2 linked regions of the Homo sapiens genome follow. The protein of the gene in region 1 purifies or fractionates together with the protein of each later gene. This does not show direct contact. Each region holds a gene or a part of one and is shown on either strand. Other genes may lie near its edges.

Region 1 (7,035 bases):
AATATTTTCCACAATAAGAAAAAATCTGTAGAAAGCTGCACCAGTCTTAACATTTACAAAGATTATACCAGACTATTAATAATTCTCATCATTAATCATTGTCAGAAGCTAAATATCATTTTGTTAACCACTAATCCGAATCAAAATTATTCCAAAAAGAAATATATATATAATATATATATATGTATATATATGGAAATCCCCCCCACCCTGTACTTCTATGTGCTTTGAGCACAACTTGTATTCATCAATTCATCTTCAGATCTAGTTTTTTATTACAAAAGACAACTATGCTTACAAGGTGAATTGAATTACAAGCCTTTTACTACTTTTTGGTGAGTTAAGAAAAAGCTATTTAATCTAACAAAGTTTCACTTTAGCACTCAGCTAAATAGAAATTTCGAAATTTTATTTAAAGATATGATAAAATACCATATGGCCCTGGTTTCAAGAGAAATTCATTTAATAAGTTGTGTAAATGAGTTTATTAGTTAAAGTGAACTTACAAAATCTCTGTTGGTTTTATAAACCAAAGCAAACTAGTTCATTTGAATTGCTATGTGCCCCCCTAGCATTTTTAAATGCAAGACAATGTATTTGTAGAAATGATCATTCTTTCTCAGGGAATGCTAATTTACCATGCTCCCATGGTAAATTCTACAGGAAACTTTCATGGAAAATGTCAAAGTTAAGGAAAGTTTAGACTCAAAAATAATAAATTTTTGGTAATGATAGTTTTTGGAACACGTATAATTCCATTTACATTCTCAGCTTTTCAATTGTATTTATCTGAAAATTAGTTTCATAAAATGTTACATGGTTATAACTCAATATTACTGTATAAAGTATTTGAGAAATGTCTGGTAACTCTCTTGTGATTAGGTAACTTCATGACTCAAACCTCCTGTTACTGTTTTGATGCTAGCTAGCACTTATTAAGCTACCTTTTAATGAAAAAAAAAAAAAAAAAAAACCTTTTTCAAAAAGCATTAAAAAGATCCACCATTTCATTTTGAAGATGGAGAAAGCAAAGTAAGGGTAGGTTAAAAGGTCTGTCAGATTGCATGGTCGAGTCTCTAACAAGATAAGTAATTCTTTTGTATCAATTCCTATTACCTTGGAAAACACTGGGCTCTACCAGGCAGGTGATTCCTGTTCATATTATCTAGGGCCAACTAAAGTAGAAATTAAAGGAAACCAACTATAAAATCCATGTAGAAGAGAAAAATAAGCAGCTCTTCATCAACTGCAAATTTTAAAAGATTGATTAGCTCTTTATGTGCCCAGCTAAATATGCCATTTAAACTCAAGGACCAAGCTTATCTCATGTTTGTTTTCTTCAAGTGGCTGCATATAAATAATGGCTACAGGCAGAATCTACTTCACAAGTATATAATCTAGCCACAACCAAATCATAATGGCACCAAACTCATACCTTTTTACAAGAGGAAAGTTTTAAATTGACAGTAAATGAACTCCGACATGAGAGGATGAAAAGAAAACACTCAGCATACAGACACACACAAACATATTCTGAAAGTGCTTCACATTACACTGTGCATTTACAGACATCGCAGGGACTGATGGACACAGAGTAGCAATTGTTTCCTTATCACCTCCATGCTTGATCACATGCCATTCTGTGCCATCCATTTTATCACCTTAGGTCCCAGAAGACTCATAAGACCCAAGGCCTGTTTCTCACATGATTCCTTAGGATTCTGTGAGCTGTTGATGTTACAGGTCATGCATGGCAATCATTGGACCAATGCCACACAAGCTTAGATGTCCTCCACTCTCCAGTCAGAAAGAACACACACAAAATTCCTTATCAGACAGTTGGCAAGAGTACATGGAAAATGGATTTTTATGTCACATACATTAGGAGAAGATCCCTGGCTTCAGGGCAAAGTTTAGAGGAACAGCACATACTTACTGAAGACTAAGTGGATTCCAGAGTTCATCATTGGCTAGACTGATACTATTTTACATTTGTGTTATAAAAGGTGGATATTTAAGAAGAGTGAACATATGACCGTACATTTATGAGTGACTAGCAGACAACTGTTTCCTGAGTCAGTCAACCTGGGTTTTACTGTCCTAAGACAAAATCTGAATTTAAAGAGACCAAAACTTTCAACAAAAAAACCACATATTTTTATAAAGAAAGATAAAAGAAAGTCTCATAATCATGATTCTGTATGCTACTCAGGCATTGAAAAGGTACCCTCAATGAAATTACTTTTCACCATTGGTTTCAGGATATAAAACAATTAAAATTAGAACACACTAAAAGCTGCACTATAGTTCATGACATCTGCATGCCACACAAAAAATCAAAATGTAGTCTCACATAGGCTGATCATACTAGAGTATATTTATTAAATTTCACCATTATGATCACTTTGTTATAACTAAATTAACCCTGACATAAACTTTGACATTTTAAAAACAGAGAACATACTGATTTTTCAACTATTTTACTTACATGTGTTTTTTAATTCTCATGCAGTGCTCATAATTAGGAGATACTACATATTCACCCTCACATTATGCTTATTAAGAACCAAGCTCAGAGGGTAGAAAAGTGCCAACTTCATTTTCCATAAACTTCCCATACATATATTAAGCCACTGTTCTTCTAATTATATACTTATGGTACATTCTTCTGTAAAATGTATAACTGTAGTCACATAACCATTGTTATGACAAGGCGGCAACATCATTTCAGATTACAACAAATGAGACCAAAAGTTGAAGAGACCACAGCATATAAAAGTCATGAGAACACCACACACATTTCAATATTTTCCACTTTCCAGTCAAAAAAACATGCACAAAGTTTTCTTAGCAGATAGTTGTCAGAAGTGCATAAAAAAACTGGCTTTCAGGTCATATATGTTGAGTGAGGATCAATGCCATTGAGGAAAGAGAGCTGTGTTCATTATCTTTTAGGTCTGTCTATATCATCTATAGCTGCTAGAAGTTTTTGTCTTGCTTTCTTATTGATATGGGATCCCAGGCAAACATTCACCAGATTGGTCAGCTGCTTCGTTGAATATTCCTGCTCAAAGAAGAAAGATCCAAATTTAGTACCCTAAAAGGAATGTATCTGATCAGTGCAACAAAAGAACAGGCGGATATTCAGGTGCAGTGGATAGTTACTGAGCATTATAAACCAGTGAAAAACAGTGGAAATTACAGTTGGGACATGGAAGGCAAATTGTTTACTGAGCTGTAATAGGAGAGAATAAGAATACTATAGTACACATTTGAAACAGTAAGCACTAGAATCTGTTTTAATATGGCAAAGCAATCTGACATGCGTATGCTTCTTACTGCTTTGATGATCACACACTTTACACTTGTTTCTGTAATAGTCTTTGTTATTGAGTCATCAAAATACACTGACATTTCAAATTTTTTAAATGCTACTGATGAAGTATTTTTCTGGCCCTCTACATTTTGTAAACACTTTAGTTAAAAAAAAAATCTCCAACAACAGAAGAACAACTCTTCTAAGATACAACAAATGAATAAGGTAACAAGGATCACAAAGTCAGGGAGCTGCAAATAAAATTAAGACTACGAGTATCTTTCGCAATCCAAATCCATCTGGTTCCTGAATTTTAGATACTGAATTGCTAGGATGAGAATAAACAGGGATTCATCAGAAATTTCTGCAGATTGACTTGGTACTGGAGGTTGAATAGCAAGAGTTCAGATAGGGAAAGACAGCTGTGTACTATTATCTAATAAGAAAAGAAAATGTGTCTTTATTGAAGGTAACCACTAAATATAGTACAATTTCAAAATAGGAGAAAGAATTGATTTTAAAAACTTGGCAAACTGCTCAGCTTGTGTATCTGATCTCTGAGAGCACCTGTCCCCGCCTGGTAAGTAATCTCATTTAACCACTCAGCATTCAGTGAGGATCCATCGTCAGTGATCGCTGGACTCATCATTGTGGGAAGTTTCCTTCAAAGACAGAAAAGAGTCCCTGCTGCTGCTGGGGAAATGTCACTGAATTACAAATATCAATCAGTTAAAGCTCTTTCAAAGTACTAAGTTAAAAAAAAATCAGTCTACTATATTAAAAGAGGAAATTCAAAAAACGGGCATCATTCTTGCATCGAATAGAGCTGTGCCTTTCCTCCTTGGCTACTTTGTATTCTTTCCCAAAACCCTTTCCTCAGTACCAACCCAGAAGTGTTTACAGCTTACTTTACTAAATGGATTCTAGCAACATTAAGCAGTCTATCTGCATCTAGGTTTAACATTTTGGTTATCAAATGTCAGTGGGGCTAAACGTGGTGAAGTTTTTCTCAATCTGGCTTTACTGGTCGAACTCATTAAAAATAACACATACATTCCTACTTTGCTTCTAAAGATCCGAAACTGAGTAAGAGTGGGGACATTCACACAAGATTCACGCCAATGTGAATGTTCTAGGCTAATGCATTTTATCTCTTTACAGTGTTAAGGCCAGAAAGGATGAGTCTGAGCAGGTATATACAAATAATTATTTTCTTACCCAAATGAAATAAAACTTGACTTAGCTTTTACCCATGACATTCATAGGTTAAGAAAATGTAAATCCTAGAGTTATCAAAGCAATGAGGATTTGGTGATAATTTTAACACATGCCATATACAGAAAAGCTTCCCATACCAAGCTCACTGAGTTGAACTGTGTCAAAAATTCGGCATCCTACGTAACAATAGTATTTTTCGTTATCTATATAGTCATACAAAAGAAAAATAATCAAATCTATATTAAAGGTAAAATCTAATGTAAGATGTAAGTTAAGTTTAGCCATTTAAATATTAATGTCTTCACTCATCACTAATACGTGTCAGTGTGTAGGATGTTACCATTTCATCGTTGAGGAGTACGAGAAGGTTTGTATGAGAAGGTTTAAGTTACATAATCGATTATGGCTTATGAATCATTTCATTGTTTCTGTATTCAATCTGTCTCAGTATTTATCAACTTCAGCCTTTTCCTATAACACAGTTGCAGGAAAAATATAGCTAATGTCTTGGCTTTGGCTGTATTTCTAGATCATTACAGTAACAGTTCACAAAGGGCTGAAAAAGATTTGATGAGTCAAAGGGCACTGCTTAGATACGGTGCCCTTAATCTGAATAAGGCAAAGAATTGACCTAAGTAGTTTGTATTAAAAAAGCAAATGTTTCTTTATATTTCACTCTCATGATTTTGAATTAAATAACACACCCAACAAGAACAGCACAAAGAAAAAGGAATAAAAACTTAATTAACTATTTTCCAGCTCTCACCCTGTGCTCTTTGATCCACCGTTCCATGTCATTCTCAGTTAGGTAATAAGCTTTAATATAAGTTTCTACAAATTCTTTATCAGGAATGGGTCTAATATCTGTTAGTTTTTCAAGTTTCATTAAAAACTGTTGAAAATCCAATTGCATCAGGGCACGACCCTCATTACTGCATTTCTTGACATTGGCATATCTAAGATGCAAAACAATAAAAAAAAATACATTATAGGATAATTAGAAACAAAAAACTGTCAGGTATTTGAAGTTTTCTCTAACCTATATTTGGACAGATTCCCCAGAAATGAGAGGGTTATAGGAAATAGAGAACATAAGCCTTGAGTCAGAAAGACTGGGTTGTGTTTGTGCTCTGTCATTTTACCTATGCGGGCCTCAGTTTTCTCATTTGCAAAGAGATCCAATGAGTTCAAGTCTCTTTGTTGTTCTACAGACCACGGATCTCTGTATTCAATCAACATAATTGTCTGTAAGAAAGTTAAACTGGTATTCCAGTTAATCTGGCTGCCAAGAGTTACTTTATAAAAACTAAGCTTTGAATACTTCAAAGTAATCTTAGTTTTATAAAACTGTTCAATATTCAATGCAATGCAAAAGAAACAAATGAAATAATTCTCCCATGAACACTCTGAAAACATAAAGAAATGTGTAAGCATGTAAGCATAGAAAGTATATATATATTTTTCATGATAAAAAGCTTATAGACCTATTCTGATATTCTACACTACTGAAACAGTGTGTTTTAAGGTGGACTAAGTAATAAAGACAAATATACAAACCCTAACAATACAACACTTTATTGCTCATTAAGTCAATGTTTCATTTCTTCAATCAATCATACAGAACATGGAAAATTCAACTGTGGGAATGAGGTACTTACCTTAAGGAAAGTTGCAAGAAAATAAAAGCTTATTTTATTTAAAATGACCAAGCTTTTTTTTTTTTTTTTAAAAAAGAGTATTTTATACAGAAGTATTACATATATTATTCACATTTCGACTTAAACAAATTTATTTAAAATACTCTTCATTCGTGATTGCTGACACAGCCTTTTTATAATTTATAGCACTGCTGGTTTCAATACAGAGTGCCACGACTGTTGTCAGCTTGTCACTGTCATCTTCCCACTTTCTAATACATTATTTTGTATAACAAATGAGAACAAAAGAAAAATCAGACAAATGATAGTGTGAATATTCAACTGATGTGCAATTCTAGAGCACTGTACAGGGTCTTTGAAATAGCTGTTCGCTTCTCAGGGATATTTCAGATGTATTACTGATCCTTATTTGTATCCTAGATGTTATGGGCAGAGTAAGCATGGTCTCTGAGTAAGTGGGAAAATTACTATTAATAGATCCATAACTTCAACACATGAAAGATTTATAGAGTTTACAGTGATATGATGGTGATTATTATTAATGATGATATAAGGGTTACGAGGGCTGATTTTACCACCAGAAATCAGGAGTATAACCAGGCATGGTGGCTCACGCCTGTAATCCCAGTACTTTGGGAGGCTTAGGTGGGCGGATCAACTTGAGGCCAGGAGATCAAGAACAGCTTGGCCAACATGGTGAAACCCCATCTCTACTAAAAATACAAAAAATTAGTGGGCATGGTGGCACACACCTGTAGTTTCAGCTGCTCAGGAGGCTGAGGCACAAGAATTGCTTGAGCCCAGGAGGGAGAGGCTGCAGTGAGCCCAGATTGCACCACTGCA
Region 2 (7,035 bases), on another chromosome or scaffold:
TGTAGTCTGGGGATTCCCAGAAGTCAGAGACCCTTTCCAGGAATCTGGGAAGTAAAAGCCGCTTTCATAATAATATTATTAATAAGATGCTATTTATCTATTTTACTCTCATTCTCTCATGATTGAACAGTGGGGATTTTTAGATGACTTGTGATATCATTATTCTGAAGGCTAATAGAATATGTGTTTGGGTAGTCTTGTGTGTGAGTGAATGGACACCACTTTATCTTGCCCTTTTGATTCTTATGTACCTGCTGTTCCTGCCATTTCGGAATCTGAAGGATGCAAGTAGGATAAAAAGCAAATCAAAGTTCTTTGCTATTAAGGTTATTCCAAATATGATCTTGGACAGACAGTATACACTGAGTAAACTTTCAGACTTTCAAGTTACGAAATTTTGGCTTTCCCACTAAGACGTGAATTGAAAAACTTAGGGAAAGTAAACAGTGAAAGATAGATCAAGCGTGATTGGGGCTGACTAAATGATATTTTTCTGAAGATACTCTCCCAGTATAACTGCGAATTCTTTGGGGAACACTGCTTCATTTAATGACATATTGGGAATGAAAAACAAACAAGAAATGAATGTTGAAATGAATTAACATAAAAATACTTCTGCATAGGATTTCTACCATCCTTAGAATCATCTCTCCTACTCCTGCCAGCCCCTTAGAATATCAACTGTTTTGGAAATCCGAAAATTTTGTTGAGTTGTTTTCTAAACCCTGAATAATTTGTTAGATAACTGCAGGTTAGACCACTATGGGGGGTCTTGGTCACAGCACATGGTCACATTTTCCTGAAAAAAAATTTAAAATTCTACTAATTGGTAAATATCCTATGAAAGTTTAGATTATCTTTTCACATCTTAATTTATAAAGTACTCCTTATAAAATAGAAAATCATAATGTCTTTGAACAAAGTCTAATAATTTCTATAAATCATTACCTTAGATAACAGCTTGTCAAATAAGCTATCCATTATCGCTACAAGCTTAGCTGATATTTCAGCTATGTGATCATGGTAGTCCTGCAATGAGAAATGATAATTGTATTTTTAAGTCCCTGGGACACATTTTTAAAATACTTAACAATTAAGGATCTAAACTTATGAAACGCCAATAGAAAATATATGAAAAAGTACCTTAGTGATATGATCAAAATGCCTAAGCATGCTATATTGCTTAGGTGGTAGTCGAGCTTCAAAATGAGCCCGGATCACAGGAATGTAGTGCACAATTAACTGCAAACATCGTGAAGAAAGAGCTGAAGATCCAGGGAGTAGATATATAATGGAGAAATAAAAAAAAAAAAGGTATTAGTTGATTTTAATTACAAATCAAATCAAATAAAAAACATCACTTATAAAGAACCAGTTTATTTCATAAACGAAGAGCCCTATGGCAGAAGGCAACATATTTCATTTTGTCTAATAATTTGATACTGAATAATGTAATGAACATGCTGCTTTCACAAAGGACTCAAGTTGTGAGTATTATCAGTATCACAATAACAAGACAACTGATTCTCTTATGACATTCAGATAGCTTTCACCCCCAAATACTTTATACACATTATATCTTAATATTTTCTAGAGTGGTGTAACTTCCAAGTAACTTATACTTGGAGGGGAAATGCATCGTAACCTTTTCCCCATGGTTAGTTTTTTTCAGTGATGAGTATACATAAAAGAGTAAGTAGCATTTATTTTTAGAGTAATGCCACTTTGGTTAGAGCCATGAAAACATGAGGTATAAAAAAACATGATGAGAACAGTGACATCACTGTTAACACTTCAGCAAGTGAATTAAACGCAAGAATCCATACCCAAATTTTTTGTAGTTATCGTTTTTAGTCCAACAACTTGCAGTGCACCAGCTCCAAGAACTAACTGGCAACTTCTTGAATTGAAGTACTAACAAAAGAAGGAGAAAAAAACCCCAAAATTTACTAAAAACTGTTCTTTATATCCTGGCAATGTGCTATTATAAAAATACATTCCCCTTTCCTCTCATTCAATGGCCAAATGAATTATCTAGTAGAAGCAATTAGTATCTATTTATTTAATGAAAAAGAAATGAGAAGGGGAGATTCTAAATGATAATATTTACTGATAAGAAAAAAGTTGAAAAATTCTAAAAATCAGTTCGCAGAAATTAATCTTTAATTTGCATGTACAAAACAAATTCGGTTTCAGTCATTCTTGTTGGGAAGTCCTATTTTCAAAAGTTATAAAAATCTGTCTTGGCTAAAACATGACAACTCAAGTCAGAACATAATTAACAGATTAGAGGTTTGAAAAAAATAATAAAGCATTTCCTCCGTACTGGTAGTTTAAAATATCTCAATATGAAATGGCTGAATAAAATCATCACATTTTCATTTTATATCAATGGTTCTGAAAGAATGATGCAAGAAAAATCTCTAACCTTAGTGAGATGAATTTTGTAAAGTTCAGTGAATTCCTTCCATGCACATTTGAAGCCAGTCCAGGTTTTTTGACCTAAGTGGCCTCAGTCATGTTCAGCACCTAACGAACAAATCATCTCCTGTCTCCAATGTCATTAACAACTCTATGGGTGAATGAGGATCACTAACTGTGGAGTAAGAAGGAAGCAGGCAGCCTGTTTCCAATAACATGTTGTGATTCAACCACAATCAAATGTTATAAAACTAATGTCTTAAAGTTAATTTGACCTTGAAATGTCTTTGAGTTAAGATTAGTCACACCCTAATGTATTAATTCCTCGAAAAATTTTTCCATAATGGAGTGAAGTCATACATACCTTCAATAAATCTGACAGACGAGTAAGCATGTCAGTAGTAACAGATGGGATGTTATCCACACACTGGCAATATTCAAGGATAATTCTTATTAACAGCAATACGGTTCTACAAGAAAAGAAAAATGGCCCAATAGGAAATCAAAACAAGAAAAATCAAAAGGATTTGGCATATAAAAATCAAATTACTTAATGGCACAAAGGATCTCTGAGAATATAATGACCTTGGTAACTATGTTAAAGTATGCATTTTACCTACTAGTACAGCAGGTTCTTGACTAACACAAGACAAGAGAGGTGTCTAGAATGCAAAATTTAAAGAGGCTCTTACTCTGTGCAATTGCAGGATCAGCTTGCACAACACTGAGAATGAGTGGCTCCTTAAATTCTGTACAACAGGCATAATACTCTCTGTATGGCATTCTTATTAAGTAAGGGAGTCGCTTCAGTAAGACAGGTATTGCATTCATTAGCCAATTCAGAAACACTGACAAAAAGCCTATCCAGTGTTTCTGATTACCAACATAGTAGGTCCTCCATCATAACTAATGAATTGATGAAGAAAACCTAGTCCAGATTTTCTTAGTGAGATGGAAAAAAAAAAAATCTATAATGGCTTCTAAGGAAAACATGTCTCCTAAGAATTTTATTGGTAGGTCACAAAAGGTTCTCTGGCTGGGCGCGGTGGCTCACACCTGTAATCCCAGCACTTTGGGAGGTCAAGGCAGGCAGATCACTGGAGGTCGGGAGTTCGAGACCAGCCTGACAATGGAGAAGACCAGCCTGACAGTGGAGAAACCCTGTCTCTATTAAAAATTCAAAATTAGCTGGGCGTGGTGCTGCACATCTGTAATCCCAGCTACTGGGGAGGCTGAGGCAGGAGAATCGTTTGAACCTGGGAGCCGGAGGTTGTGGTGAGCTGAGATCATGCCATGGCACTCCAGCCTGGGCAACAAGAGCAAAGCTCCGTCTCAAAAAAAAAAAAAAAAAAAAAAAAAAAGTTTTCCGAAGATGATAAAGTTATCACCTCCATAGAAGGACAAATCACACGTTAAAAAGACACACTACTGGGAAGTTAAAGAAGATTGAAATTAAGGAGAAAGCCATTCATCATAGGATATCTAAGTTCAATGACATGCTCAGAAATAAGATCTACGTAAAATAAGGATTTATAAGAGCCTGAAAGATATCAGGAACTAATGATTCAAGAAAGATGGTGTCTAGCCTTTATAACACCTTGTCAGACCATATATGCATACTGGTCTCTATGCTTATTTCTCCTAGAGTCTGCCTAAATGAGCATGAGTCCATTGCTTATCTTTTGTAATTGTCTCTCAGAAGTTGTAATAGTTCCCCTTTAGCCAGGGAATTTAGTTTTTTGGCAACAGACTCTCTGCCTAAAGAGCCAAAAGCAAGATGGCCAGAGGGGACCATATCCATCAAGCAAGTGAAGAGTGACCAGATAACCAGTAGTTAAGGAGGGAAATCATAATTATATTGAAGGGATGGGATTACAGGAAGACTGAAGAAAGCTTTCCCTACCAGAAACAGGGAAGGACTTCAGAAGAGAAAAGAATGGAGGCTTTAGTTTAGAATGTGTGGACTTCAGGTATTTGAATACAGATACAGAAAAAGGATTAATTCTATACATACTTTTTGAGTGCTTATTATGGTGCCAAGAAAAATAAAAACGGTAAGACCTCATCTCTACCTTTGAGGAATTCAGAGTCAAATTAGAAGACATATACATAAATAAACAATTCTATTATACTACGGTAAGTGCCATGATTGAGGAACATAGAATTACATTCTTCCTGGAGGTGGTGGTCATTTCAAAAAACACTTGACAAGAAGAAAAGTGAAAAAGAATGCTGGGCTAGATATTGGCAGTTAGACCTAGATTTGAATTCTGGCTCCATTTGGGTCACTTGAACCACTTAATCTTCTAAGCTTCAATTCTCATAGTGGAAAAAGGAAAGAATAATCCCCAATATCTTTATTTTACAATGTAGTTGTAAAGATCAAATGAGATCACATATATATGAAAACACTTAAGCTGTGAAGTACTGTTAAAGCATATGAAGATATATTTTAATTACCAATTTAATAAAAGACATAGTACTAGACAAAAAAAGATGGAATTTGTATGCTTCTTAGTTAACTTGAATTTGAGATACTTTTATTGGTAAAAGATCTAGTGAATCAAATGATGCCAATGAGAATAACTACCAACAACTATCAACTTATTAGGTGCTAGACCTGTGCTAAATGCTTTACATGAATTACTTAATTTTCGCAATAATTCTGTGTATAGTACTATTTTCCACATTGTGTGGGTTCCAGAGTTCACAACTTAAACTATTATGCTATAATACATTCTAAGAAAGCAACAGAAGAAAAGATAGAAAGAGCCTGGGATAGCAATAATATCATGGATCCACTACAATTACTCTTGGGTTGTCTAGATTTCTTGTTATATGAGAAAAATCAAGCTTTTTGTGTTAAGCCAGTGCAGTCCTTAATAATGTATGCTACAGAAGAGAGAAGATAAAGAAATCCATAAAGTTTCCTTTAAGTTCTTTGCAGGATTTAAAACAGTTAATCCAAATTTAACACTGTTAAAACTGTTAATCCAAAATTTCCAATTCACTTCAAGGGAGAACTAGAAGACTTGTGTTTTAAATAGTTGACTCAACTACTAAAGAAAAATGTGTCACTCACCCAACAACTGCATACTGTTGTCCCTCGACAATAAGAACTTCAGCTGGTTTCCTTTCTTCTGTGGCTACAGAGTTAAGCAAATAAACGAGAGACAAGAGTACCAGACGAAACAAAATAGAGAAAAAGCTGAAGAAGATAATTCCTGTTTAAGGCCAAAAACTCTCATTTCTGAAAATAAACATCTACTTCCTGGGAAACTATTTGGCACACAGTAAATAAAGTATACTGGAAGTTGGAGAGATTTGGATTTGAGTACCAGTACTACCAATTACTGGATACATGACTTTGGGGCAATTATTTAACCTCTTTGAGTATCACTATCTGTATCTATTAAATGTGAACAACAATATCTTTCAGGGTTGTTGTTAATGGTAGAAATAATTATCACAAACTGCCTATCCCTTAGGGCTGGCACAAGGTAAATGATCAGCAAATAGTTTTTTAAAAAGTTATTAGTTTTGGAAAGGCAGAACTAGCATTTAAATTGGTTGTCTTTACTATTATCATTATAGAATACAAGTTAATTTCTAAATTTGATGGAAAGATTATATATTTAATTTTTAATACTTCAACCCAGACGTTACTTTATTTTCAGCATGTGATATTTCTTTAAACAAAATTCAGCATATTGAGGTGAAAAGAACAGTGGACTGGATTTTATCCTGGACACGCCAAATTGATTAGATTACCATGGGCAGCTCATTATGCTTCCCTAAGCTTCAAATCCCTTTAGGATTTGTAAATATATTTGACTATTTGAGAGCTATATATATTGCAATCACAATTTACTATGTATGTCAGAAGTATATTTTTTGAGGTTAAGGACTGTGTCTTCATCACTTCTCTATATTACAGAGAAGTGGCATAGCATCGTAGAAAAGAGAAATGGCCCTAAAGTCAGTCTGCCTGGATTGGAATCCCAGCTCTACCACTTCCTAGCTATGTAACCTTAGACAAGTTGCTTAACCTCTTTGTGCCTTAGTTTCTAAATTTGTAAAATAGGAATACTAATAATATCTAGCTCATGGACCTGTAAATGAGATAACACATGTAAAATACTTAGAACAAAACAGTGTAAGTAAACACTCAATTAATATTAGCTGCTATCCATTAATCTTCATTTCCCCAATGCCTAGCTGAGTGGATAGTAACCCAATTAATTTATCATGGATAAATGGGTAATAATCCAGGATCCTTAACTTGAAAAGAACTAGTAAAATGTTAATGGACTTCTAATAGCATACACCTATGCTATTCAGAGAGGAAAACAAAGACTGAGATGAAGCAAGGTATGTAAAAGAAACCTCCTACCATCAATATCCTCCAAAGAAGTGAAAATAAGTAGTTCATGTTTCAAACAAAACACATGAGTAATTCAATTATTCCACATTTATGATTTTAATTCAGAAATCATTCTGTTTGCTTAACAGTGGAATCAAAAGACCATGAGCTGTTCAGGGACAGAAAACATATCCTAGTCATCTAGCACAGCACCTCACATAGAGGGAAGTCAATTAAATATAGCTTGAAAG

What was found. Proteins that work in one complex are often made in the same cells at the same time.
Region 2: the proteins of VPS50 (region 1) and VPS54 purify together in Homo sapiens (affinity purification with mass spectrometry; 3 studies listed by BioGRID and IntAct, with this or other methods). This does not show direct contact.

The regions. Positions count from the first base shown.
Region 1 is NC_000007.14:93,354,346-93,361,380, reverse strand, and holds the end of VPS50 (syndetin), read right to left. Parts: intron 5,491-7,035; coding exon 5,301-5,490; intron 3,065-5,300; coding exon 2,945-3,064; 3' UTR 258-2,944; downstream 1-257.
Region 2 is NC_000002.12:63,911,397-63,918,431, forward strand, and holds part of VPS54 (vacuolar protein sorting-associated protein 54), read right to left. Parts: intron 5,568-7,035; coding exon 5,504-5,567; intron 2,892-5,503; coding exon 2,786-2,891; intron 2,530-2,785; exon of another isoform or gene 2,429-2,529; intron 1,915-2,428; coding exon 1,827-1,914; intron 1,266-1,826; coding exon 1,144-1,265; intron 1,030-1,143; coding exon 949-1,029; intron 1-948. UniProt on the Homo sapiens protein: Acts as a component of the GARP complex that is involved in retrograde transport from early and late endosomes to the trans-Golgi network (TGN).